Linked DNA regions of Homo sapiens: region 1 is linked to region 2. Evidence: fine-mapped expression QTL. Tissue or cell type: whole blood. Region 2 holds a variant in brackets; the other region holds the start of a gene. All regions are shown on one strand. Distances are between the middles of the regions.

Evidence for each region. PIP is the estimated chance that this variant, and not a neighbour inherited with it, causes the effect.
Region 1: CD47 starts here. The variant in region 2 is fine-mapped to the expression of CD47 in whole blood (TOPMed, PIP above 0.99).

The regions. Positions count from the first base shown.
Region 1 is chr3:108,089,722-108,092,221 of GRCh38, reverse strand. CD47 (CD47 molecule) reads left to right here and starts at 1,191. Exons shown (of 11, transcript NM_001777.4): 1 at 1,191-1,359. The coding sequence starts at 1,314. RefSeq lists silencers at 578-637, 648-697, 718-1,467.
Region 2 is chr3:108,042,519-108,045,279 of GRCh38, reverse strand. It overlaps CD47 (CD47 molecule), which reads left to right. Exons shown (of 11, transcript NM_001777.4): 11 at 1-2,189. Among named protein-coding and RNA genes, the nearest start is that of CD47, 47 kb to the left of the region's middle. The variant T/G (reference allele first, on the strand shown) is at 1,409.

The sequences.
Region 1 (2,500 bases), 47 kb before region 2:
TATTGTGGTGGGAAATTGCTTTCTTTCCCAGGAGGTAGGAGGAAAACAATCAAGGAGGTGGACAGGATGTGCACTCCATTAGAGCAGCCACCAGAGCCTGACTTTTTGATAAGAGAGTACATCAGTTAGGATAACGGTTAAAAGTATCTTTAAAAGACTTTTGCTTCAGGATGAATGATGTGGCCTGTGTGATTCAGCGATAAATTCAAAAGCCTTGTCCCTATTGTGGCTTGCGGCCACATTTCGAACCCATTTTTCAAGCATGTTAAACCCAAGCGCAGCGCAGAGGGCTGCACATGGGGCAGTCACAAACCAAGCTCAATAACCTTGCTGGTGGGGATGTGTTGGATACGCTGCTAATGCCTGTTTGCGACAATGCTCGCTAGTCCCGGTGGTGGCGGTGTTCACAGGTAACAATGTTTACCACCGTGAATGGAACTTGTTTGATTAACCCTGATCAGAGGATGAAAACACTAAAGAACCAAGTGAGAAAGAGGGAAGAGAACCGCATAGGGAAGAGCAGAGCGAGTAGACGAGCCGAACGCAGAGCCCGCGAGGGGCGAGTGGAAGCTCCCTGCGGGCAGGTACCCGACCACCGCCCTGCCCTGGGCGTGGCGGCCTCGGGCTCAGGGACCGCTTCGGCGCTAGACGGCCGCGTCCGGAGGAAACGGGCGCTGGTGAAAGCCTAGGTGTCCTGGTCCACGCGCGCAGCCGGACGTCGGGTCCAGGGAGAGACGCGGGCTGGGGCGGGACGGGACCCGGCCCCTGAAGCGCGAGGGTGGGAGTGAAAGCAAAGAGGAGAAAAGTAGAGAGAGAGGACAGTGGGGCCCAGCGCCGCGCGAAAGGCAGGAACCGACCCGCGGACAGGAACGGGTGCAATGAGGTCCCCGGCGAGCGTGGGAACACAGGGTTCAGCCTCCTGCGGCGGGCGAGCACGCGGACCCCAGGGGCGGGCGGGTGCGACAGGACGTGACCTGGAAGCGCGGCGCGTGCCACCGCCCTGGAGCAGGCATCCGGCCTCCGTGGAGCGGGCAGGCGGGCCCCGGGTCTGGAGCCTGCGACTGGGGAGGGCGCCGCGTCAACAGCAGCGGTTGCGGGGCGGGGCCGAGTGCGCGTGCGCGGCTCTCGCGGGCGGGGAGCAGGCGGGGGAGCGGGCGGGAAGCAGTGGGAGCGCGCGTGCGCGCGGCCGTGCAGCCTGGGCAGTGGGTCCTGCCTGTGACGCGCGGCGGCGGTCGGTCCTGCCTGTAACGGCGGCGGCGGCTGCTGCTCCGGACACCTGCGGCGGCGGCGGCGACCCCGCGGCGGGCGCGGAGATGTGGCCCCTGGTAGCGGCGCTGTTGCTGGGCTCGGCGTGCTGCGGTGAGTGGCTCCTCGCTCCCAGCCCTGCGGCTGCTGTCGCTTCGCCCCCGCGGGCGTGTGGGCTGCGCCCCAGCCAGCCCGGCGGCGCCCTGAAGAGGGTGGCCGGGGCGCAGAACACTCGGGCCCTGAGCGCCCGAAGTGCAGACGTGGGAGGGCCCCACGGGGAATCGGGCGCCCCCCTTCTTCCTCCCTTCCTTTCCCTGGTCGTCTTCTTCCCCCTGGGTGAGAGCGGGGCTCATCTCCTCCACCCGGTTCTCCATCTCCAAATGCACACACACAGGAAGACTCCAAACCGCGCACCTCGCGCAAAAATTAACTAGCAAGAAAGGGCGCGATCAGAGGCAAGGGGCTGCAGCTGCTAGGGATCCCCTTCTTTCGCACCCCTCTCCCTTCTCAGTGCTTAGACGCATTTGGGGTTGAGGGAGGGAGAGTGGGAGGGCCCGGGCCTCTTGCGATGGAAGTGCGCATTTTGGCGAAGTCGGTGAGAAGGGGTTTCTGCCGTTTGCCTCCCACATGAACATAGGAGCGAAGAGGACGTAAAGGACACAATTAAGTTTCATTTTCAACTCAGCATTCAATCAGAAGAATCTTCCGGCCGTGTAATTTTTGCTGTCGTTTTTAATCCTAAAAATAAGCTTGCTGGAAACTCTTCCTTTCTCGTGACCCTCACGCCCCATCAGCCACTTGCATACATTCTAAATTGTACGTTGAAGTTTTTCCCACTTTATTTGGGGGAACCGTTTTAAAAGTAATCTGGTTTTCGCCTGAAATAGGAAGACAGTAACCTCCAGTCAAAACATGTGCAGCAGAATGGGATTTGGTGTTTTTCGACGCCAAAGAACCTCCACCCCCCCACCCCCACCCCGAGCTTTTGGAATCCATTTCGCTTTTGTAAAACGTGTGCTTCGTCTGTAAAAACTGAGCAAGGAATAGAAACATTCGTAGCTCTACAGTGAGTGCCTGTCACACTTCACATCCATAGAGCCTTTTGTGAACTTTTATAAGATTCAGAATTCAGCTTGAGCACCAGTGACAGCAATTGTTACATTTATTCTAGAATGCTAAATTAATTCGATTTTAAACTGATTATTAGCCTCGGTGTGCCGTTCCTAAAGGCTTGTGACTTTAGGTATTTCCAAGA
Region 2 (2,761 bases):
TTTATAGTAAAATTTTTTATAAACTAAAGTTGTACCTTTTAATATGTAGTAAACTCTCATTTATTTGGGGTTCGCTCTTGGATCTCATCCATCCATTGTGTTCTCTTTAATGCTGCCTGCCTTTTGAGGCATTCACTGCCCTAGACAATGCCACCAGAGATAGTGGGGGAAATGCCAGATGAAACCAACTCTTGCTCTCACTAGTTGTCAGCTTCTCTGGATAAGTGACCACAGAAGCAGGAGTCCTCCTGCTTGGGCATCATTGGGCCAGTTCCTTCTCTTTAAATCAGATTTGTAATGGCTCCCAAATTCCATCACATCACATTTAAATTGCAGACAGTGTTTTGCACATCATGTATCTGTTTTGTCCCATAATATGCTTTTTACTCCCTGATCCCAGTTTCTGCTGTTGACTCTTCCATTCAGTTTTATTTATTGTGTGTTCTCACAGTGACACCATTTGTCCTTTTCTGCAACAACCTTTCCAGCTACTTTTGCCAAATTCTATTTGTCTTCTCCTTCAAAACATTCTCCTTTGCAGTTCCTCTTCATCTGTGTAGCTGCTCTTTTGTCTCTTAACTTACCATTCCTATAGTACTTTATGCATCTCTGCTTAGTTCTATTAGTTTTTTGGCCTTGCTCTTCTCCTTGATTTTAAAATTCCTTCTATAGCTAGAGCTTTTCTTTCTTTCATTCTCTCTTCCTGCAGTGTTTTGCATACATCAGAAGCTAGGTACATAAGTTAAATGATTGAGAGTTGGCTGTATTTAGATTTATCACTTTTTAATAGGGTGAGCTTGAGAGTTTTCTTTCTTTCTGTTTTTTTTTTTTGTTTTTTTTTTTTTTTTTTTTTTTTTTTTTTTTGACTAATTTCACATGCTCTAAAAACCTTCAAAGGTGATTATTTTTCTCCTGGAAACTCCAGGTCCATTCTGTTTAAATCCCTAAGAATGTCAGAATTAAAATAACAGGGCTATCCCGTAATTGGAAATATTTCTTTTTTCAGGATGCTATAGTCAATTTAGTAAGTGACCACCAAATTGTTATTTGCACTAACAAAGCTCAAAACACGATAAGTTTACTCCTCCATCTCAGTAATAAAAATTAAGCTGTAATCAACCTTCTAGGTTTCTCTTGTCTTAAAATGGGTATTCAAAAATGGGGATCTGTGGTGTATGTATGGAAACACATACTCCTTAATTTACCTGTTGTTGGAAACTGGAGAAATGATTGTCGGGCAACCGTTTATTTTTTATTGTATTTTATTTGGTTGAGGGATTTTTTTATAAACAGTTTTACTTGTGTCATATTTTAAAATTACTAACTGCCATCACCTGCTGGGGTCCTTTGTTAGGTCATTTTCAGTGACTAATAGGGATAATCCAGGTAACTTTGAAGAGATGAGCAG[T/G]GAGTGACCAGGCAGTTTTTCTGCCTTTAGCTTTGACAGTTCTTAATTAAGATCATTGAAGACCAGCTTTCTCATAAATTTCTCTTTTTGAAAAAAAGAAAGCATTTGTACTAAGCTCCTCTGTAAGACAACATCTTAAATCTTAAAAGTGTTGTTATCATGACTGGTGAGAGAAGAAAACATTTTGTTTTTATTAAATGGAGCATTATTTACAAAAAGCCATTGTTGAGAATTAGATCCCACATCGTATAAATATCTATTAACCATTCTAAATAAAGAGAACTCCAGTGTTGCTATGTGCAAGATCCTCTCTTGGAGCTTTTTTGCATAGCAATTAAAGGTGTGCTATTTGTCAGTAGCCATTTTTTTGCAGTGATTTGAAGACCAAAGTTGTTTTACAGCTGTGTTACCGTTAAAGGTTTTTTTTTTTATATGTATTAAATCAATTTATCACTGTTTAAAGCTTTGAATATCTGCAATCTTTGCCAAGGTACTTTTTTATTTAAAAAAAAACATAACTTTGTAAATATTACCCTGTAATATTATATATACTTAATAAAACATTTTAAGCTATTTTGTTGGGCTATTTCTATTGCTGCTACAGCAGACCACAAGCACATTTCTGAAAAATTTAATTTATTAATGTATTTTTAAGTTGCTTATATTCTAGGTAACAATGTAAAGAATGATTTAAAATATTAATTATGAATTTTTTGAGTATAATACCCAATAAGCTTTTAATTAGAGCAGAGTTTTAATTAAAAGTTTTAAATCAGTCCAATGTGTTTCATAATTATTTTTTAATTTTCTCCATGGTGCAGTGAAAACATCACATGAGAAAGCAGGAGACCTGGGTGCTAGTCCTGGCTACACTACCAGCTAGCAGAGGACCTGGGAAAGCTACTTCCCTGGATCTCAGTGTCCGTCTCTGCCTGTAGAATGAGATAAGTCTCTTCAAGACTGAAATGTATGGTTCTCCATTTTAATTATCAGTTAGGACTATTGATTACAAGTGAAAGAAAACTTAAATCTAAGAAAAATGGGATCTATTGGCTAACATAACCTGAAAATTCAGACACACAGCTGGATCCTGGGCCTCCAAAAAGTGTCATAAGGACACAATATCTTGCCAGTTCTCAGCTTCACTGTCCTTCGTGTGGCTTTACTCTCCCAGGTTCCTGTGATGGCAAATGGCAAGCTGCAATCCCAAACCCATTTTCTTCCAGGTTCAGGGAGAGTAGAGGGGTAAAAAAGAGCGCATGTCTCTCTCTTAATAGTCCTGTCCACCTTGGGTTGCACCTCACCTCGGTGCTCTGACTGGGTCACGTGCCATGCCTCCTTCAGTCACTGAGG